5 separate regions of the Homo sapiens genome follow, and all the other regions are reported to be linked to region 5. Evidence: microRNA targets listed by miRTarBase, many of them from high-throughput screens and not tested one by one. Region 5 holds a microRNA gene; each other region holds the end of a gene's coding sequence.

Region 1 (4,646 bases), not on the chromosome of region 5:
CTCTACTAAAAATACAAAAATTAGCCAGGTGTGGTGGCATGCAACTTTAGTCCCAGCTACTCAGGAGGCTGAGGAGGGAGAATTGCTTGAACCTGGGAGGCGAGGTTGCAGTGAGCAGAGACCATGCCATTGCACTCCAGCCTGGGTGACAGTGAGACTCCGTCTCAAAAAAAAACCAAAAAGTTATTGGTTGCTTCCCCACCTTCATTTATTTTCACATGTATTCATTTAAGCCAAACGTATCCCTCTCAGAAACAAAAGTTCTAGTAAATAAGTAACTTAAGGATCAAAGTTGTCTTTTCTAAGATTGCCAAATCTCTGTTCCCATTTTTTTAAACCAATTAATAAATCAGGAAATAAAATATTGACAAACATCTTTATGACTCCCTATATCAAAGAGTTGTTTTCTTCTTTTTACTTTTTTTCCCCATACCTAGAGGACAGTATTTTTTTTCTTTTTTCTTTTTTCTTTCTTTTTTGTTTTGCTTTCTAGAGACAGGGTCTCACTCTGTCACCCAGGTTGAAGTGCAGTGGCACAAGCTGAAAGCTCACTGCAGCCTTGACCTCTGACCTCCCTTGCTCCAAGTGATCCTCCCACCCCAGCCTCCTGAGTAGCTGACACTACAGGCATGTGCCATGCCCTGGCAAATTTTTTATTTTTTATAGAGATGGGGGTCTCACTATGTTGCCCAGGCCAGGCTTTAACTTCTGGCTTCAAGTGATCCTCCCACCTTGGCCTCACAAAGTGCTGAGATTACAGGCATGAGCCCTGCTTTTATTTTGAATTATTCATAGCAAATACTGTGAACCTAACGCTTTGAATTTGTTAACATTTTTCTTTTTTTCTTTTTTTTTTTTTTTTTGAGATGGAGTCTCGCTGTCACCCAGGCTGGAGTGCAGTGGTGCGATGTCTGCTCACTGCAGCCTCCACCTCCCGGGTTCAAGCGATTATCCTTCATTCACCTGCCTCAGCCTCCTGAGTAGCTGGGATTACAGGTGCACACCAACACGCCTGGCTAATTTTTGCATTTTTTAGTAGAGACAGGGTTTCACCACATTGGCCAGGCTGGTCTTCAACTCCTGACCTCATGATCTGCCTGCCTCGGACTCCCAAAGTGCTGGGATTACACGCGTGAGCCACCATACCCAGCCGGGAGAATGCATTTCACATTGCTTATGCAAGTCCAGGACTGTCCTCTAGCATCACAGTTAAAATAAAAACCTAGAGCAAATGCTAATGTTTTCACTTTCTTTCTTTTTCCCCTCCTTTTCTCAATAGGATCCAAGCAAAACTCCCTGGAATCGCCAAAAAAAAGGCAGAATAAGTACATGGAAACCAGAAATGCAACAGTTACTAAAACACCATTTAATAGTTATAACGTCGTTACTTGTACTATGAAGGAAAATACTCAGTGTCAGCTTGAGCCTGCATTCCAAGCTTTTTTTTTAATTTGGTGTTTTCTCCCATCCTTTCCCTTTAACCCTCAGTATCAAGCACAAAAATTGATGGACTGATAAAAGAACTATCTTAGAACTCAGAAGAAGAAAGAATCAAATTCATAGGATAAGTCAATACCTTAATGGTGGTAGAGCCTTTACCTGTAGCTTGAAAGGGGAAAGATTGGAGGTAAGAGAGAAAATGAAAGAACACCTCTGGGTCCTTCTGTCCAGTTTTCAGCACTAGTCTTACTCAGCTATCCATTATAGTTTTGCCCTTAAGAAGTCATGATTAACTTATGAAAAAATTATTTGGGGACAGGAGTGTGATACCTTCCTTGGTTTTTTTTTGCAGCCCTCAAATCCTATCTTCCTGCCCCACAATGTGAGCAGCTACCCCTGATACTCCTTTTCTTTAATGATTTAACTATCAACTTGATAAATAACTTATAGGTGATAGTGATAATTCCTGATTCCAAGAATGCCATCTGATAAAAAAGAATAGAAATGGAAAGTGGGACTGAGAGGGAGTCAGCAGGCATGCTGCGGTGGCGGTCACTCCCTCTGCCACTATCCCCAGGGAAGGAAAGGCTCCGCCATTTGGGAAAGTGGTTTCTACGTCACTGGACACCGGTTCTGAGCATTAGTTTGAGAACTCGTTCCCGAATGTGCTTTCCTCCCTCTCCCCTGCCCACCTCAAGTTTAATAAATAAGGTTGTACTTTTCTTACTATAAAATAAATGTCTGTAACTGCTGTGCACTGCTGTAAACTTGTTAGAGAAAAAAATAACCTGCATGTGGGCTCCTCAGTTATTGAGTTTTTGTGATCCTATCTCAGTCTGGGGGGGAACATTCTCAAGAGGTGAAATACAGAAAGCCTTTTTTTCTTGATCTTTTCCCGAGATTCAAATCTCCGATTCCCATTTGGGGGCAAGTTTTTTTCTTCACCTTCAATATGAGAATTCAGCGAACTTGAAAGAAAAATCATCTGTGAGTTCCTTCAGGTTCTCACTCATAGTCATGATCCTTCAGAGGGAATATGCACTGGCGAGTTTAAAGTAAGGGCTATGATATTTGATGGTCCCAAAGTACGGCAGCTGCAAAAAGTAGTGGAAGGAAATTGTCTACGTGTCTTGGAAAAATTAGTTAGGAATTTGGATGGGTAAAAGGTACCCTTGCCTTACTCCATCTTATTTTCTTAGCCCCCTTTGAGTGTTTTAACTGGTTTCATGTCCTAGTAGGAAGTGCATTCTCCATCCTCATCCTCTGCCCTCCCAGGAAGTCAGTGATTGTCTTTTTGGGCTTCCCCTCCAAAGGACCTTCTGCAGTGGAAGTGCCACATCCAGTTCTTTTCTTTTGTTGCTGCTGTGTTTAGATAATTGAAGAGATCTTTGTGCCACACAGGATTTTTTTTTTTTTTTAAGAAAAACCTATAGATGAAAAATTACTAATGAAACTGTGTGTACGTGTCTGTGCGTGCAACATAAAAATACAGTAGCACCTAAGGAGCTTGAATCTTGGTTCCTGTAAAATTTCAAATTGATGTGGTATTAATAAAAAAAAAAAAAACACAAACAATGACTGTGGCATCATTCTGCTAACTTTATTCTTTATACACAGTTTGGGTAAAGTAAGAACCAAACACTGCTTCCACTCCCCCTATCCTCACTCCACTTTGGGGACTTTAAAAAGTGACTAATAGTTGGTACTCGTAAGGATTCCCAAGACTGCAGAATTTAGTTGTACAGCATAACTGTGCATTTGATCTCTGAAAGAAAATAAGAGACCCTCTAAGAGGTGGTGACCTTAGAAGAATGAGGAGGGGTCAGGGGGTCTTTTACCCCAGTTCAGCCTCACACCAGCCTGGGAGATTTTCCCACCTGCAACGCAAAGCAGCCTGTAAATTACATATAGCCACAATACACTTAAATTGAGTCAATCACCGTGGAAAATGGGAACTAAATACATCATCAGGTCTTCATTGAAAGAACTTGAGTGGTCACCTGTGATTAGCTCTTCTCCTAAACTAAGGCTGCTGTGACCCTTAAGCTGGCTTTTAAAAATGTATTCAACATACCTCTTAGAAAACTTAGGCTGAAATATTTTTTAAATGACTGATGCAAACAATTTCACAAATACGCATACAAATGTTTGAATAATGTCACTAAGTAACATGGTATATAAATATGTATTCAGAGTAACATTTACATATTGGCCATAATAGCAAGCATACCATTAACAACAACAACAAAAAAAATCATGAAGAGACTTCACCTGTTCATGTCAGAATCCCAAGGCAAGGAGGCACACCTAGGCAAGAGGGCCAACTCAACTTGCAACGTCTAACCTGTGAGGCCATAACTTCCATCAAAGCAGGAATCAATGGAATCACTACCGCAGCCCTTCCCTTTCACTGGTGCCCGGCACTTCAGCTGCATCAAGATCAATGGAGGGCTCATGAAAACACTGCTAGGCCCCAACCAAGTTTCTGATTCAGTAACCCTGGGGTATGGCCCAAGAATTTTTATTTCTAGCAGATTCCTAAGGTGATGCTGCTGGTCTCAGGGACACACTTTGAGAGCCACTGGTGTGTTTGGGGCTGTCTCAGTAAAGATGTCCACTCTCCTGAGGCCTCTCTCTGCCTACGGAGGGGGGGGAATCTAACCCCTCTGCCCTGGCTTATCCGAACTTTGGCAGTGGGCTTGAGTGATTATAAATTGGTTCCCCCAATTTGCCTACTGTTTTTGAATGGGCAGAGTAAAAAAAGTGGTGTTAATACTCTGGATCCGAAAAAATGCATGAAGGAAAGTAAAAGAATGGCAGTGCCCAGCCTGGTGCCATCCATAATCTCCGTTCTCAAGCTTTTAATACTGTCTCAAAAACCGTGGAGGTTCAAACTCACTGGGAATTTACTTTTCAGTCAATTGACAACCCATTCAGGATCTTCCTGAATCCCTGGTGGCCTCCACAACAAAAAGCACAAAGCCCCCTGCCGAGGCAGCCTTGGGCCCTGCGGCAGCCGCCCCACCTCTGGAGTTCTGCTGGGGAGGGGAAGGACGATTGGATGGCGCCTTCCAGCTGAGGCCCTGCAGAGCTCAGTGTGCTCATCCCAAGGCAGTGTGCAGGGCTTTGCCACCTTCAGGAGTCACAGATCCACCGTGGTGGCCTGCATTGCCCAGCATGTCAATCCTTCGGCAGGCCTGACAAAT
Region 2 (4,569 bases), not on the chromosome of region 5:
GATCCGTCAATGTGGATAAAAATTGTTCTCTCTCAGGTTCTTTTATCTTTTATGAAAATCAACTAAAAAGTCATAAAAATCTTTTTTTGAAGTTGAGTATTATCCTAATGATGGATACAATATGGGCCATCTCCATAGAGCTGTATATTTTTTCTGGTTTCAGATTTTAAAGATTTACACATAAATTTTAAATGATTTTTTAAAAGTCTTTTCTAGTATAACATGTTTGCTTTCTTTCTTTCTGTCTTTTTAGTTTCATAGCTTCTTTTTAAATAATTGCTCATTCCCATCAGGGCTCTTTCTGCTTTTCTTTTGCAGAATATGTGAGATCCAGGCTGTTGACTGTACTACAATATCCTCATTTACAGTGAGGGAATGTGAGGGATCCAGTAGGATGGGCTCAAGACCAAGGCGCTACTTGTTCACAGGCCATACAAATGGCAGTATTCAAATGTGGGATCTGACCACTGCTATGGATATGGTTAACAAAAGTGAAGATAAGGGTAGGTTCTCATACAGAAAGATGTTTGTCACAAGGTTAAGCTTTTCACTTAAGTGATTTTAATGACTATTTGTTCTCCTAAGATGTAGGTGGTCCAACCGAAGAAGAGCTACTCAAATTACTCGATCAATGTGATTTGAGCACATCTCGCTGTGCTACTCCTAACATCAGTCCAGCAACTTCCGTAGTTCAGCATAGCCACTTACGAGAATCAAATTCTAGGTAGGTTAAAGAGTTGGGTATTATAAACAAAATTTATTTCTTTTGGGGAAATTGACTGAAATATTGTAATCACATAGTTGTTCTAGAAAGCCATACTTCTCAAGGTACATTTTAAATTCAGACATTATGTTAACTTTTTAACAGTTTTACCAAATTTCTTGATAGGCATATCTGGTTCTTTTCATAGAAAAACATTTTTACCTTTTAACTTATTTTGTGAATTGCTGCCCAATTGGAAGCCTATTATGTGATCAAGAATTTATTCAAAGGAAATTAGGAAAATTACATGTCACCTTGGTTAGTATGTGAAGCTTTAATTATTGTCCTGTCTCAGGGACAATATTTATCTGTGGTTCTATTATGTTGTCTAGTCTTACATTTAAGCATTATGTAATTTTAATACAAAGTTCCATAATGTCTTTTTAGTTATCATATTGATAAATTCCAAAGTCTGAAGAACCAAGGGCTAAATACTGAATTATGATGGTTTCACATTGGTTTCAAGGATTTTTCCTCCCATCTTTTTTTTAGCTGTTCAAAAATTCAGCATGTCTGTGAATATATGATGGTATTATTTGCATTGGTAATTTTATATACCATCTATATAATAAAGAGTACTTGATAAGTATATTTTTACAAAGAGAAATATGGATATAATACACTTTATGTATTTATATAGTGTGTTTTATTGGTTGTATAATTAATATGTTCCTGAGAAATCACAGAGTGAAATCTGAACTGTCATTTTTAAAAACTGTATTTCAGCCTTCAGCTTCAGCACCATGATACCACCCATGAAGCAGCTACTTACGGTTCCATGAGGCCTTACAGAGAAAGTCCTTTATTAGCAAGGGCAAGAAGGACTGAGAGCTTTCACAGTTATAGGGACTTCCAGACTATTAATTTGAACAGAAATGTAGAAAGAGCTGTCCCTGAAAATGGTAACTTGGGTCCAATACAAGCTGAAGTGAAAGGGGCAACAGGGGAATGTAATATATCTGAGAGAAAGTCTCCTGGAGTAGAAATAAAAAGTTTGAGAGAATTGGATAGTGGATTGGAAGTGCATAAAATAGCTGAAGGTTTTTCAGAATCCAAGAAAAGGTCATCAGAAGATGAAAATGAAAATAAAATAGAGTTTAGGAAGAAAGGAGGATTTGAAGGGGGAGGATTCCTTGGAAGAAAGAAAGTTCCCTATCTGGCGTCATCACCAAGTACTTCCGATGGAGGAACTGACTCACCTGGTACTGCGTCCCCATCTCCTACAAAGACTACTCCATCTCCTCGGCATAAAAAAAGTGATTCTTCAGGTCAGGAGTACAGCTTGTGAAAACTCACCAAAATGAATAGTTGTTTCGTTACATTTAGATGAAAGTTAAACTTTACTGAATTTCAGTACATTAGTTTTTACACTAAAACTTTACAAGATAAAATTGGACTTCATTTAGTATCTTTTTAACAGAATTACTTGGAATAATGAGATACAATAATCATATCTCTTTTGACATTTTGGAAATTTTTTTAATTTTACAAGTACATTTAACAGATCATTTATAAAGCAGGAGTCCATTTTAACACTTACCGACTTTTTTTGGTTTGGAAACATATTACCACGTCTTAATAGGATGGTGCCCATATAGGTGAGCATCCCTTTAGATCATGGGAACCAGCAGACTGCATTCCTAATCTTCATTATGCCTGAGACTTGTCTTACAATGTTACCTTTAAGTGAATCACATAATTGTCTTTGGAACTTGGTCTCCCAACACTTATTGTGATTGCAAAGTGTTTACCAGATATTTGATGAGGTGCTATGTTTGTGAAAAACATATCATGTAATTCAAAAACACTATTGATATTGAATACCAGATACCACTATGTAGTAAGTCTTTTAGGATGATTTTAATTTAGTCGTGCGTCATTTTCTGATTCTCATCATTGGGAGATCTTAAATCTTAGCAAGCATTAGCAATATTAAATGCCAAAATTCCATTGAAACTTTCAAGTTGGAGCAATTGTCTGTGTTTGAAAAGATGAAATAAAAATAATAATCAAGGGCAAAGCTTTGAGTGCCCAGAAGGGAAAGCTGTACCAGTTGCTAACCTGTCTTGTTTCAGGAGCCACCATGTTTTTTTTTCAGTGTTAACAACAATCATGATAATTAAATTAAAACACTAGTTTGTTCACTTGTAGGACTGCAGTTCTGAATTTTGGGTTAAAGGTTTTGGCTGCTGTAAGAATGTGAATTTGAATGTATTTTGAATTGTAAGAGCAAAAGAACGTTTTTGTACAATTTTTTTTCATTTAATTGGAATGATCTTCAGGTTTCTACAAATAGGGTAATTGTAAATTTAAAGCATTAGCATTTATTGGTGAATAATGTATATATCCCCATTCCAAGAAATATAAGTGAGTGAAGTTGAAATAAAATCTTTAAAATTTACTATATTGCCAGTGGTTTCACAACAGTTCTCTTGTATTTATTTATCAATTAAATCAAATAAAAATGATTATGTCAATGCGTTTTCAGTTATTTAAGTAACAGTTCTGTTTAAAGTGTGCTATATATGTTTGTTCATTTCTTTGCTTCTTCCCATAATTTAAAAAAAATGGGGGGAGGGAGAACTTAATATATGTGGAAAATAAGTTATTATCAATGAAAGAAAATATTAGGCAAAGCATAATTTCAAAATTACTAAGATTGTAATTATCTTACACCCTTCTTCCTCTTTATGACAGTTATGTGAAAGTTGGGTGGGCAAGTAAGAAAATGAAAGAAAAAACTAGACTCTAGTGACCAGGAATAAAAGGCCATTAAAAAGAAGATAGTAACTATTATGTAATAGAATCGCATAAAAAGGAAACTGACTATACTAGATTGCATTACAGTACAAGTCAAATCGTTTCTTTCTTTTGCTTACAGGAGATTGAACCTTGATGCAGTGGTTTATGTCTGTCTACTCTGACACTAATTTCTCAGATTGCCCCCATTATGCCTTAATTTTTTCATTATACCTACCTCATTAGGGTCGCTGTGGTGGGAAGAAAAAAAATTGAAATGAGTCTGTGTACTTTGTGTGATTGATGATGAAAAATGAAAACAATTGTAATTATTTTCATGGAAAGAAGTATTTTCATACCAATAGGGTAAGTAAGTAAGTGTTGTTGTTATCCTCATTTCACAGATGGGATCACTGAGACCCACAGGGGTTAAATAACTAACTTAGTGACAAGGCTTATTACCTACTGAGCCAACTTCTGAACCCAAATCTTTCTATTTCAAGAGTCTATGGTCCTGTTCCTGGCTCTTATGCAGGCTTATGTATCAGAAATGGCTGAGGTTAGACACATGGTTGCCCAGGCCTCACTCCCACTCCAGTCCTGCTGAATTTGAATCTCTGCTGGTTGAGACATAATAATAGTATATTTTGGAAAAAAAAATAAAACAGTTTTCATTCTAATAATGTACATTGTTGGTTGAGAAATTATCCAGAACATCCTACTTACTTTCTTAAATAGGTATAGCTTTATCATCATTTATGTGTAACTCAGAGCTGTTAAGAGTATTATTTTTTAATAATAAATAGATGATTAAGCCAGAATTAGGTCACATTCAAATATTTATTAAGCAAACCATCTTTAGATTAGTTTACATGATATTTGTGCATTGGAAACCAACTATTCATTTGTGACATAATTAAAAGTTCCTTATTAATGAATTCTTCCACTTGGACTATGTTTTATTTACCGGTGTGTTCATGGATGCCAGCATGATTTTTACATCAGTATATGGTACCATAACATTAATATTTGGGTTCCATTTAGTGGAAATTACAGTAGATTATAAA
Region 3 (4,399 bases), not on the chromosome of region 5:
ACTTGGGCTTCTCCCCCTGACCCCCCCAAAAGAAACCTGCATCTTCTCTGGAGAAGGTGTTTTTCTTATTCTTTTTTTTTTCTTTTTTTCTTTTTTCTTTTTTTTAAGGATTTCTTTTATCAAAGCAGTATTGCTGAAGAGTTGGAAACAGTTCTCATTGTCTCCTCCTTAAAAATTAGGGCTGGCTTTACATGAGAAGTAAGGGTGGAATGGAAGAGGAGAGGAACCTGTGGAAGGTGGGCGATGAGCTCAGGTCTGTAGAGCCTCTCAGGGCCTATGACCTTGAGATGTTCATCCCCTTAGAAGATAGAACTGGGTTTCCTGGGCCCCCAGATGCATTTGCAGTGAGACTTGTGAAATGCTGGACTTACAGGTGGTGTTTGATTTGATTTCTGCACATTCTCTCTGGAGTAGAAATGGAGACTGGAAAGGTCGAGTCTGGTTTTGCTGGGCAGCTGGGTGGCCAGCAAAGCCAGCTGCACGTCCCCAAGCACAGATAGAGTGGCAAGGGCATGTCCAGCTTACTGACCATCTGCATTGAGCTCATTCTCATTTTCTATATCTGACTTAAAGTTTCTCTCGTTTCTTTTCTTCTCTTCACCTTTAAGCACAAACATAAACCATCCTTGCTACAGCCTAGAACAGTTAAGTAAACCTTTCTCACTGCCCCTAACTGTGTGTGCCATGAAGTCGCAGTGTTGTAGTGGCTCTGGGCTTCAGCGGTGTTTGCCACGGCCATCCCTGTGATAGTGCCACCCCTCCGTCCCCACAGACCAGTCATCTCCATTGCTTTTGCTTTGCCCGTGATGCTTGTTGGAGTAGATGAATATAGTGTGTCTTAGCGCTGTCCTTTCCGGCTGTAGCTCCCACCAGTTAATTCCGAACTGGGGGTGGGCTGACCTTGATGTGAAAGAATGTTGGAGCAGCATCCTGCCAAAAAGCAACTCACGTTGGCTCTCCTGCCAGTGTGCCCTGAGTGGCCCCAAGGCACCTGGCTGGAGGGAAAATGGCAAACTTTTGGCTGAACTGGAGAATGTCCTAACAAACCCCCTTCCAGAATGGCTTTAGTCTCTAGTGCTTGCTAGCATGGGAGCTTTGTCTTGAATTCCTTTTGATCTGCCCCGTTTCTCTCCAGCCTTAGGAATAAATCTAGAGGCTATTGTGCAATGATCTGTGGGCTTTTTAGAAGTCTCTAAATTTCCTTGAAATTCAGTACAGCCCAGCATAAACTACTCAAGTTCTTGATCAGCCTGCTGCTTTGTTCTTATTAATAAAAGCAGTGTGTAGCTGGCTAAGGACTTGTTTTATTAATGCTCCACAGGAGCAGAGACAGACAGAGAGACATAGTGAGCCTTGAACCAAACACCTGTATTCCAACATTTTACACAGCGGTCTGGGCACCCTGTGCCTAGGAGAGCCAGCTACGTGTCTACCTGAGTCTGACCTGGGCCAGGGGCTGTTATCTTGGGAAAGCCAGAATGTCATTAAGAAAGGGACAAATAGGCAGTTGCTTGTGTAGCAAGGCAGCCACCAGGTTGCTCAAAGGGGGTTCTGCATAAACCAACATATTTTGTTGTTGCTTCCAGGGCAGCAGAAGAAGCCTTTGTAAATGACATTGACGAGTCGTCCCCAGGCACTGAGTGGGAACGGGTGGCCCGGCTGTGTGACTTTAACCCCAAGTCTAGCAAGCAGGCCAAAGATGTCTCCCGCATGCGCTCAGTCCTCATCTCCCTCAAGCAGGCCCCGCTGGTGCACTGAAGAGCCACCCTGTGGAAACACTACATCTGCAATATCTTAATCCTACTCAGTGAAGCTCTTCACAGTCATTGGATTAATTATGTTGAGTTCTTTTGGACCAAACCTTTTTGTCTTTAGAGTTGTTCATTGTTTGTGATTGCATGTTTCCTTCCTTCAACTGTGTTCTCCCTGGCATTCAGAGAGGAGGGAGAGGAGGAAGAGGAAGGGGAGGGAAGCTTCCCAAGAGTAGCCTCAACCTGTGCTTCTGTGCATTATTCTGAGAATAAATTTCTGTTTCAAACTGTATTATGTGAAGCTTCTTTATTGACCTCAAGATGTGTTGTAGTTTGGAGTGAGGTTGGAAGGAATTTCCAGGAGGAATTTCCTTGAAATTTCTAGGGCTGAGGAGGCACAGCCACTGGGCACACAGCCCTGCCTTGAACTAAGATAGCACCGGGATCTAGAGTGGGATCCTGTGGACATTTTCATTTGAGAAGGGAGTTTAGTGGCTGAAGGTTAACCCCCTCATTATCTACCTAAGACACAGCTGTGAATCCTCTCACCAACCTAGTCGTTTTCTCCCAGATGGGCTCTTGCTTGCCAGTGTCCCTCAGTTTAGGGTCTTGGATAGTATATTTCGGCAGGAGTCTGTGGGGCACGTAGACTCTAGTAAGACCTTGACTCCTTTGGATCCGGCCAGTAAGCCTGAGTCAGGACGGCATTCATGTGTGGCTAGCCCCATTACTGTTGAGTCCTGTAGCACATGTTGGGTTCTGTGCCATCCCAAGCACTTGGTTCATATTTCTCTTGTAAAATCCTTCATCTAGACCTGTGCTGTCCAGTGCAGTATTCACCAGGCCCATGTGGCTATTTAAATGAATTTAAAATACATTTCTAGTCCTAGTCACAATTCATGTGCTCAGTAGCCATATGTGGTTAGGTGGCACTCGGATAGCACAGGTTATAGAACATGTCCATGGTCGCAGAAAGCTGCACTGGACCATGCTGATCTACCACAGGTGTTTCCAGGAGCCCGTGCTTTGTTCAGACACCAGTAAGTTCATTATCTGTCTTCAGAACCTGGCATAGTACCTGGCTCGTTTTAGGTGATGTTCCAAGCAATTATTAAAGCTATATTTCAGTAATCTGCTTATAACTACCTGGTACTTCCAAACTGGAGATTGAGGTAAACTGTAATACTATGCTCAGGATGGGGGTTAGGTGTTGCCATTGCCAAGAAGGAAAGGCCACTATCTCTTCAATGTTAATTATTTTTGGCTGGAAGGAGCTTTCATTACTTTTCCTGCTACCTCCCCGTTTCCAAGCTTAGTTGGGCTTTCCTTGACCTGGCCCACATTTCTGGCCTCTGCTTATTCCTCCCCCTTTAGTCAAATCTTATTACAATCAAGCAATCATTGTTCCCAGACTTTTGTTCCTACGGGACCTGCTAATCCCATTCCAAATGTCAAAATCCAATTTAAGAACTAGTTCAAAGGCCACCCCCCTTCCCCTGAACTCCCATGGCCATCTACCTGGGGCAGCTTATTTTTGGTAGTCTTGGTGCCATCGTCTGGACCAGTCTTGCCTCCCACACCAGCTGGGCTTCTTGAGGTGGGAGGTGGCAATTTTAAATGTCAACAAAATCTGTGACATTCTCTAGATGGAGAGGTGACTGAATAATGTGACAAAAGTGATGCTGGGATGACTTCCAAGGCTAGGTCATAAAAGGCAGTGCTGCTGATGGTTGATTTGTTGGAGCAACTAGCTGGTGGCCCTGAGCCGCCTCATAAAAAATTCTACCTTTGAAGCTACCCATGTGGTGAGGAAGCCCAAACTAGCCCACAGAGAGGCCACCTGAGAGACCCTGTAACCACACACATTGGGAGATGCCTGGCCAGCCAGCCTCGTGCTATTCCAGCTGACAACTACAAGTGCAGGATACTCTTGAGCTACAACTGTCAAGTTTGAGCCTTTCCCAAATCCTGACCCACAGAAACCACGACGTGAAACAATTACTGTTGTTTTAAGCTCTTCAGTTTTGAGGTTACACAGCAATAGTAATTTGGGATTGTTTCTAATGCCTGTATGAGACCCACATAGGGCCTCATAAAAAGAGGGAGTGGGTCTAGGGACTCAGTAAATGCTTAACACTTAGTTTCAAACCTCTTTCTTGGGGGCTACTTTGCTTTTTTATGCCAAATTTTCAATGTTATATATAGCAATGTTTTGTTTTTGTTGTTTTTGAGACAGGGTCTCACTGTGTCGCCCAGGCTAGAGTGCAATGGCATGATCATAACTAACTTACTGCAGCCTCCACTTCCCGGGCTCAGGTGATCCTCCCACCTCAGCCTCCTGAGTAGCTGAGACTGCACCATGCCTGGCTAATTTTTTTTGTATTGTTTTGTAGAGATGGGGTTTTGGCATGTTGCCCAGGCTGGTCTCGAACTCTAGGGTTCAAGCAATCTTTCTGCCTCAGCCTCCCAAAGTGCTGGGATTACAGGCATGAGGCACCATGCCCAGCCATGCTTTCTATTAATAGACTTTTTTTGGTTAAGAAAGCAATGATATTAGAGGCCTTAAGGAAGTTATATAACCTTCAAAACGTAAGCAGTGCAACAATTAAATCTCTTCTGGGAAGGAAAATGCTTTTGGCTAATGAGTT
Region 4 (4,646 bases), not on the chromosome of region 5:
TGACTATAGTGACTTCAGTTAATTTTTATTCAACTGACTTATTAATATTTGAAAGTTATGAAACATTCATTTTCTCCCTGAAAGTATAGCCCCTATTCTCAAATGAAATCACAAATCAAGAGCCGAGAAATGCAGAATTCCAGTCCAGGCCCCAATTAGGAACACATTCTCTTGCCTTTGAATTAACCAAGCTTGTCACTTCTATTTCTCATTTCTGCTATTCCAATTTTAACAGTCTCAGAAGTCTTTCTAGCACTAGCCCATTGGAAGGTAAGAAAACATGTACAAATCACATCAGTTTTGTCTACTTGACCATAGTCGTAAAAATGGAGTTGAAGGCATGGTGGGTCAGAAACGTTGGCTAAAACGGGGGTGGGCAAGTCGTGTCATCCTTGGTCTCCATCTGTATTCTAAAAGCTCATGAGAGTTTAAGATCTCTCTGCAAAAATGGCCAGTTAACACAGAACAATTTCCATCAGGGGACATCTCAAAGTCTTAACTATTAGAAGTCACCTTTCTTCTTTCTTTGATGCCATCTTTCCTAACCGTATCACAGTCTACTTCATTATGAAATGTCCCAGCGTTTCAGTAGACCCACATAAACTGTATTTGCCCTCAGGCAATGTCAACTTCCAAAAAAGTAAGAATAAACTTACAAAAAAGAATCAACCTTCAAATCACTTCATGGTTTTTATTTTTATTTCTACTTAGCATTAATGGGATTTTAAATGTCACCATGGACTCATTTACTTTAACTTCCACCTATCGACTTAACCTCTTGACATTTGGAATCCACTGTTAAGACTATATGTCAAATAAAAACTTAAAACATTTCAAAGGAGTAAGTATTCTGAAAATTGTGAATTTAAAAGAAGTATTTGTCAATCCCACTTCTGGATATATAGCCACAAGAATTGAAAGCAGGGCCTCAAAGAGGTATTTCCACCCTCAAGTTCACAGCAGCATTATTCACAATAGCCAGAAGTGGGAGGAATCCAAATGTCCACTGATGGATGAATAAACTAGATGTGATATAGACACACATGAATGAAAAACTATGCAGCCATAAAGAAGGAAATCCCCTCACATACTACAACATGGATGAGCCTGTAGGACAAAAGTAAAATAAACATTGCAAAAAGACAAATACTTTGTGATTCCACTTACATGAGGTGCCTAAAATATCACAGACAATATCGTAACAGTAGAAAGCAAGAGTGCTGTGGCTAGCAGGGGCTGGAGGGAGGAGAAAAAGGGCAGTCACATAATGGGCATATAGAGTTCAGTTCTGCAAGATGAGAAAATTCTGGAGATCTGTTTTACAACTTTGTAAATATTTTTAACACTGCTGAACTGTACACTTCAAAATGCCTAAGATGGTAAATTATGTGATGTTGTTTTTAACCACATACACGCAAAAACTATTTGCATCATTTTGGGTACAGATCCTTGATGGAAATACTGGATACAAGTGACTATGGTGTGCATGTAGCATCTGCCCTTTATAATGTAACTTCCTTTTAAACCACACACACAAGAAAATCTCACAAACTCAGCCTTTATTAAATATATTAAGTACTGAGCATCCTAAATTATAGCTTATTAGAGGAACGACCAAGGGTTCAGACAGAAAACAGACTATTCTGTTTCATATTTTATCTTTGTGATTATTTGGCTTATGTCTGCCTTCTCCATTAAGCAGACAGTGAGGTCCAGGGTCTGATTTTGTTCACCATTACATTTCCAGGGCCTAGCACAGTGCCTGGAAAATAGCACATAAACGTTTACTGGATGAGTCAATATAGTATTAGACACTTGGAGGCGTAGTACTACCCAAGTCTATAATCACCAAATTCAGGTGCAATAAGAGATATACCATAAAGGAGGCAGAATCAACTTTCAAAAAACTAATTTTAATCAAAACAAAAATTGTTGATCATTAACAAGTTTATAAAACAGTGATTTAGTTACATAAATAAATTGATATCAGTGTATCAAATCTTAATTACTTTCAACTTCATGAGCATGTTTACATGGGTGATGAATTACAACCTTTTTTTTTCTTTTTACCTATTATAATAAATAAAATGGAGCGCATGAAATAGTTCTTCTAAACAAAAATACCTACAAACATACCTCTAAGCATGTTCTCTAGTGAAGGGAACAAGAGACACTGGACAACTTTTGCACCAAAACATAAAAATTGCTTTAAAAAGCACAAGGTTACAGAACCATCAGCTAAAGTAAAGACACTATACTGTAACCAAAGTTGGTATTTAATAATATAATGAACAGTTTGGTAGTTAGATCTCCAGTTTGGTTATTTTAAAGCATTAAGACAAGGCAAGATAGAAGGCTGCTTTTGTTTGAGTAATTTCTAGAGAAAATAAAATATATTAAAAAAAAAGAAAACTGAAAAGTAGAACAGTCATACCTACACAACTTTCTGTCCTGCACAAAGTCAAAATACCTATGCAGAATAGATATATAATATATATAATGTTATTTGTGCACAAAGGTTAGCTTATTATTAGCTCACTGCAAAGGCGTAATGTATCATTATGTCAATTGTTTTGGAAAACATTTTGTGTTTTGTGTCAAAAGGATATTTCTTTTAAGTTTCCTAGGCTAGGAGGCACGAACCCCAATTCCGGCATATTGTATATTCTTAATGCTAAGGCTTGCTGCTCTGGCTGTGTATTTTGTTGTCCCTCTTTATTCTAGTGCCTGTTATAAGCATGTGTGGTGTAGTGGTGGTTGTTGGTGGTGTGTGTGTGTGTCTGTGTGTATACATATATATATGTATACATAAGTTGTATAAATATATATACATATATAATTTCTCCCAATAGATCTCAGTCCAACCATGCAATCCAAAAGGTGGCTCTGCATAGATGCCCAGCATGAAGTTCACCACCTGAGCCAACCCTGAAGCAAGGCGTACTTTTAGTCCTTCTGATAGGTTTTCTCTCAGTTTTTTTTTTGTTTTTGTTTAAAACCAAGCTACTGCAGCTTCAAGTATTTTGCATTACATAGAATATTTTTTATAAATTAGTTAATGTTATATTTTCAATATTCAGACATATACTATAATATATATACAGTACAATAAATGCTCTCATTCTTTTTTTAATTTTTTTGGATAAATCCCTGAGAATGTATGTTGACAGTCGCTAAGTTTCCACATGCACAAGCATCGTGTGCCATGCTTCTGGACGAACAGCACTGCAAAGCCACATGGGTCAGCCTTTTTACTATTAGTATTTCATTTTGTTGGTTTGTTTAAATATGCTGAAAATGTAAAGATGAGTTACAAAGGAGTAAAGCTGAATCCATTCGAGGTACTTATCACAGGATGGAGGTGTTTTGTTTGGTTTTTAAAGCCATTTCAATTATTTTTTTTGAGGCTGTGAACGTATACAGAAAACAGGAGAGCTATGTGGACTTTTGCCACTTGACAACATATACTCAGTGTAAACCAAACCTTTTTAACCTCTCTCTCATACAAAACCAGAAAAAAAAAATTAAAAAAAATAATAAAATAAAGGAAAGAAAGAAATAGGGAAAAAATAAAAAACACACAAACTTTCACAACATGACAATTTAGTCTGCAAACGCAATATAACTATACACATATAATACCGGTGTGGCTCTGTTCTTTAAGTTAAAAAGGGTACAAAGGCAGGCTCAAGTAAAAACAAACCATCCCTCCCATCCCCACCCCCCACCCCATTCATACAAGATCTATCAACCAAACCTCTCCCGAACCAACATCATCAGTTTCTTTTTGCCTTTGTAGATTTGTTTCAGGTTGTCAATAAACTGTGTAAACTGAATGTGTCCATCATGCGCCATTAAGAAGGTCTCTCGGGCTTTGCTGAGGAACTCTATAAACTCACTATAGTGCCGAGGACTGATGTGTGTGAGCCGTGAGTGCGTTGTGTTGATGTAGGCCCCGATCGTGGCATCCAAGAGTTGCCTCAAGGGGGCTTTGTCCAGTGACATGAGCTTACCAGAGTTCCTCCTCCCATGAAGTCCCACCATGCCAGGAGTGGTCAGAGTGCATCTGCGCAAAATGTCTGACAGTACCGTTGCACACTTGACACTCTTGACCACCAGAGGTATTATAGCTGCAAGCTCATTTTTACCAAGGGAGTGGCTAAGCGCACAGGCCCACAAAACATCATTAATGGCAGGGTGTGTGTCCTGATTGTAGCTCAGGTTGAGATGGGTCATGGCCAGGGTGGCCAGCTTGTAGGCCCTCATGGGGTACCCGCGGTGCTCCATGTACCGTGCTATTGTAAAGAGCTGTGTATAGCTCATGCCAGTCGTAGCAGCGTCGAGAACAATTTGGTACGCCGTCTCAAAAGCTATGTGATCCTTTTCACAAAGGGTTAGCGCAGAGAGGGCACAGTTCTGTGGATCCTTCATGGCACACTGCAGTGCAAGTGTCCGGGCGCTGCTGGCCAGCTTTTCCTGCTGGTGGCAGTCCAGGTGGAGGCGGACGATGGTGCTGTTGGACATCACGGTAGTTGCAACTATACTTGTGGCCTCGGTGGGAGTAAAGAGTGTAAACCAGGTCTGCATGATGCTGTCCAGGGCATAAACCCCTGCAAGGAACACAAACAGGCTCTATTACTGACGAG
Region 5 (4,646 bases):
TGTTGCCCAGGCTGGAGTGCAGTGGCACAATCTCGGCTCACTACTACCTTCTGCCTCCCAGGTTCAAGTGATCCTCCTGCCTCAGCCTCCTGAGTAGCTGGGATTATAGGCGTGCGCCACCACGCCTAGCTAATTTTTTTGTATTTTTAGTAGAGACGGGGTTTTACCATGTTGGTCACGCTGGTCTCAAACTCCTGACCTCATGATCCGCCCACCTCGGCCTCCCAAAATGCTAGGATTACAGGCATGAGACACCACACCCAGCCAGATATTCTTAAATCTTATGCTCACACTCCACCCCCCCCAAAAAAATTGTCCTTCAGGAAAGCATAATTTAAGGAAAAATTTCCCAAAGTGCCACCTTCAGCTTCATTCTTAGCACCAGAGGAAGAATTGCCTGTCATATAATGAAAGATCCTTGGTGTTATCATTAATCTAGTATACATAGTGCTTCCTCTTGGTAGATTTTTACCTACTGTGAGAAGGAATGATTTTGATACTCAGACAGTGTGTAGTAATTTGTTAAGAACATTTAACTTGGAACCTATGCTACACAGTAAAACTTATACTGACAATGGATATTTCATGTGGTAGGCCTAAGAAGTATTGTGGAGTGAGGGGACTGGAAGTATATCTGCAGAACTACCTAGTCAAAGACCCCAGTCTAATTTCTAATATATAATTCATATAAATTACTCTTGCATTGCTATACATTAAACATTATGCTTGTCACATTCTTACTTGGTTAGCACTGTCACTACTGATTGTCAGGCCTATAATTGTGTATAATTCTTCCCCTGCCACTTTACCAGCTGGTGGCCACACCGATTCCAGAAAGAACTACTTTATTTCTTATTACCTCATGAAAGCACCCTCTGCCCAGTGCCTTGGCTAATAGACTGGCCTTTGTTGTCTATGACCACTAATTCCCACTCAGGCATATAGCAATTCTGTTGTTGGTTGCTTAGCCCAGTCAAAAACACTGGAAGTGGACATAGACTCCACACTGATGAATGAATGACCTTCTAGTCATTCTAATGTCCTTAAAAGTCTACTATTTTTAAATTGTAGAATATATATATATATATATATATTTTTTTTTTTTTCTGGGATATTTCTCCTTTCTTCTGTTCATTAATGTTTTTCATCTATCATTGTGTTTTAAATATGACCTAAGGTTCTATAGTATATTTAGACAAACTTCTCATTTCTCTGCAGTGTTCGGAATTCATCATGCCTGTATGACAAGGTTGTGTTTGAGAACAAAAGGGGACCTGTGTGACATGTTTTATTTCAATATACATTTAGAGTTTGAACAAATAAAAAAAGCTATTAGAATTTTTAATATATATAACACATTATCAAAAACACTGTCACTTTTCTGAGTGCTCTAATCAGGCAATTCGTATGTATATTTAAAAAGAGGGAAAAAGCTAATTAGTATACTAAATATATTTATTTTAATACCTGTGCTCATATGTTATCTTTAAAGAACAGGAATAAAATTTATGGGTAGAATAGTATGCCAGCAATTTACCTTCAATACAAATTAAACACATCTTTTAAGAAAAGGGCGAGTTATATTGGCTGGGGTGGCACTAACACTACATTATTAATATGTATTTATTGAGCATTTACTGTGTCCAGGACCCTGTAAGGGGGAAAAAAAGTCCTTGTTTTTACAATCTTTATTGACTGAAATTCTGTAAAATGAATTGAATTCCTGAAGTGACATCATTTAACCCAAATTTTTTCATCATCAACTAATTCATCTCAGAAAACAGTAAAGTTTAAAAAAAAATACTATCAGTAAGAATAATATATTTCCTTGGTTTGGAAATTTCCAAACCACGATATTCTGCCCTGTCAAAATATATTCACTGGGGAATTTTTTACTTCATACGTTTCTTTTGAACTTAGTCACATTTTTATATCTAGCTGGTTTCATTATTAAATAAAAGAAAAGGTGATTCCCCTCTTGTACTGCAGGAGACCACATACTTGAATGATACTCTAACTTCTAGGTTCTGTTATAGTAACACTGAAATCAGAAACCTGTGGGAGAAATGTCACTTTATCTGAGAGAGTAAAATCAGACTCTAAAAGGAAGTAGCAAATTCATCTTGTTCTTTTTTTTAATCAACCCTCTGCCTAAGACAAGTAGTTTGAAACACAGAGGACTCTTTAAGTCATACTTCCTTTATGTAGTCAAAACCAAAGCCACTGGGTAGTGCTTTCCCCAAAGGAATCTCTAAATAGTAGACGGGGACATTTTCAGATAGATTCGTTTGTAGGCAAACCTCCATTGCTTGTATCACATTTCCTGAAAGAATAAAGGTAAAACTTCAACTATGTATTACAGAAAGAAAAATTCAGCCTGAACCCTACCCTTATAAAACAGGTTAATTGGGTTTTAATTTTCATAAATCATAAAGGACTATTTTGAACATTTGGGCCTTTAATTGTCTAGCTCCTAGATGAAGTACAAATCAGAAAAAAAAAAAACTGTACTGTGTCAGAATGCAAGCTTTCCTCTTTGCATTTTGGCATTTGAAAACTCCGAAGAGCGGTTTTTGTTTTTTATTTAAAGAAGATGATACATATGTGTACCCGATTCAAAACTAGAGAATAGAATTTAAAACATAATTTTCAAAGTCTTCAAATATGCCTAAAGGTAACAATGTCATCTTTTAATTGCCAATTTCTCTACCACTTTCAAAAAATTACTTCCAAGGATTTAATGAGCTCCTTCCTTTCAACAGAAAATGGACTATTTTCCTTTCAGATTTACTATATGCTGTCACTCCAGCTTTATAACCGCATGTGCATACACAAACATTTCTTTCTCTCTTGCAGGTGGCACAAACCAGGAAGGGGAAATCTGTGGTTTAAATTCTTTATGCCTCATCCTCTGAGTGCTGAAGGCTTGCTGTAGGCTGTATGCTGTTAATGCTAATCGTGATAGGGGTTTTTGCCTCCAACTGACTCCTACATATTAGCATTAACAGTGTATGATGCCTGTTACTAGCATTCACATGGAACAAATTGCTGCCGTGGGAGGATGACAAAGAAGCATGAGTCACCCTGCTGGATAAACTTAGACTTCAGGCTTTATCATTTTTCAATCTGTTAATCATAATCTGGTCACTGGGATGTTCAACCTTAAACTAAGTTTTGAAAGTAAGGTTATTTAAAAGATTTATCAGTAGTATCCTAAATGCAAACATTTTCATTTAAATGTCAAGCCCATGTTTGTTTTTATCATTAACAGAAAATATATTCATGTCATTCTTAATTGCAGGTTTTGGCTTGTTCATTATAATGTTCATAAACACCTTTGATTCAACTGTTAGAAATGTGGGCTAAACACAAATTTCTATAATATTTTTGTAGTTAAAAATTAGAAGGACTACTAACCTCCAGTTATATCATGGATTGTCTGGCAACGTTTTTTAAAAGATTTAGAAACTGGTACTTTCCCCCAGGTAACGATTTTCTGTTCAGGCAACTTCAGTTTAAAATTAATACTTTTATTTGACTCTTAAAGGGAAACTGAAAGGCTATGAAGCTGAATTTTTTTAATGAAATATTTTTAACAGTTAGCAGGGTAAATAACATCTGACAGCTAATGAGATATTTTTTCCATACAAGATAAAAAGATTTAATCAAAAAATTTCATATTTGAAATGAAGTCCCAAATCTAGGTTCAAGTTCAATAGCTTAGCCACATAATACGGTTGTGCGAGCAGAGAATCTACCTTTCCACTTCTAAGCCTGTTTCTTCCTCCATATGGGGATAATACTTTACAAGGTTGTTGTGAGGCTTAGATGAGATAGAGAATTATTCCATAAGATAATCAAGTGCTACATTAATGTTATAGTTAGATTAATCCAAGAACTAGTCACCCTACTTTATTAGAGAAGAGAAAAGCTAATGATTTGATTTGCAGAATATTTAAGGTTTGGATTTCTATGCAGTTTTTCTAAATAACCATCACTTACAAATATGTAACCAAACGTAATTGTTAGTATATTTAATGTAAACTTGTTTTAACAACTCTTCTCAACATTTTGTCCAGGTTATTCACTGTAACCAAATAAATCTCATGAGTCTTTAGTTGATTTAAAATAATTTTTATGGCCCATTTTCTTTTGCAAAGTACAAATTATAATTCCAGAAGCTATCTGCCAAAAAAAGACAATGGAAGAAAATTATGAGGACACTAAAGGGAACATTCCTGACTCCTAGGACACAGTATTCTCATGTAAGAATACCCATTTGGCTTTGCCCCACTTTCTGTTCAAGTTGTATGTGCTGCCAAGACAAATTTCTTCTCCTCACTTTCTGTTCAAGTTGTATGTGCTGCCAACACAAATTTCTTCTCCTAACACCTGGAATGAGCTTGTGGCTCCACGGAGCTCCCATGTAGGTAGAACACATTCAAGAGTGTTTCTTCAGGCCAGGCACAGTGGCTCACGCCTATAATTCCAACACTTTGGGAGGCCAAGGCGGGTGGTTCACTTGAGGTCAGGAGTTCTACACTACCCTGGCCAACATAGTGAAACCTCGTCTCTACTAAAAATACAAAAATTAGCTAGGCATGGTGGTGCGTGCCTGTAATCCCAGATACTCAGGAGGCTGGGGC

What was found. Region 5 holds the annotated microRNA hsa-miR-155-5p (UUAAUGCUAAUCGUGAUAGGGGUU, at 2,947-2,970, shown strand). A microRNA usually pairs through its seed, bases 2 to 8, with sites in the 3' UTR of a target mRNA and lowers its output. Matches are read on the target gene's strand: a 7mer-m8 pairs with bases 2 to 8, a 7mer-A1 pairs with bases 2 to 7 and ends in A, and an 8mer does both.
Region 1: the mRNA of RTN3 is a reported target of hsa-miR-155-5p. Seed matches in the 3' UTR shown: 7mer-m8 at 2,077-2,083.
Region 2: the mRNA of KCTD3 is a reported target of hsa-miR-155-5p. Seed matches in the 3' UTR shown: 7mer-m8 at 2,683-2,689 and 7mer-m8 at 3,077-3,083.
Region 3: miRTarBase lists CLTA as a target of hsa-miR-155-5p. The part of its 3' UTR that is shown has no 7-base or 8-base seed match.
Region 4: miRTarBase lists ZSWIM6 as a target of hsa-miR-155-5p. Seed matches in the 3' UTR shown: 8mer at 2,669-2,676.

Annotation. Positions count from the first base shown.
Region 1 is chr11:63,756,877-63,761,522 of GRCh38, forward strand. RTN3 (reticulon 3) reads left to right here. Exons shown (of 9, transcript NM_001265589.2): 9 at 1,280-3,006. The coding sequence ends at 1,325. ZFTA (zinc finger translocation associated) reads right to left here. Exons shown (of 5, transcript NM_001144936.2): 5 at 3,016-4,646. Among named protein-coding and RNA genes, the nearest start is that of ZFTA, 9.6 kb to the right of the region's middle.
Region 2 is chr1:215,618,568-215,623,136 of GRCh38, forward strand. It overlaps KCTD3 (potassium channel tetramerization domain containing 3), which reads left to right. Exons shown (of 18, transcript NM_016121.5): 16 at 319-503; 17 at 586-724; 18 at 1,490-3,240. The coding sequence ends at 2,051. USH2A (usherin) reads right to left here. Exons shown (of 72, transcript NM_206933.4): 72 at 4,324-4,569. Among named protein-coding and RNA genes, the nearest start is that of KCTD3, 54 kb to the left of the region's middle.
Region 3 is chr9:36,210,017-36,214,415 of GRCh38, forward strand. CLTA (clathrin light chain A) reads left to right here. Exons shown (of 5, transcript NM_001833.4): 5 at 1,587-2,043. The coding sequence ends at 1,758. LOC124902151 (a long non-coding RNA gene) reads right to left here and starts at 3,995. Exons shown (of 2, transcript XR_007061474.1): 1 at 3,270-3,995.
Region 4 is chr5:61,543,419-61,548,064 of GRCh38, reverse strand. It overlaps ZSWIM6 (zinc finger SWIM-type containing 6), which reads right to left. Exons shown (of 14, transcript NM_020928.2): 14 at 1,893-4,610. The coding sequence ends at 3,748. Among named protein-coding and RNA genes, the nearest start is that of LINC03122, 92 kb to the left of the region's middle.
Region 5 is chr21:25,571,037-25,575,682 of GRCh38, forward strand. It overlaps MIR155 (microRNA 155), which reads left to right and starts at 2,944; the gene lies at 2,944-3,008. MIR155HG (MIR155 host gene) reads left to right here. Exons shown (of 3, transcript NR_001458.3): 3 at 2,857-4,132. RefSeq lists a silencer at 2,888-3,067 and an enhancer at 4,619-4,646.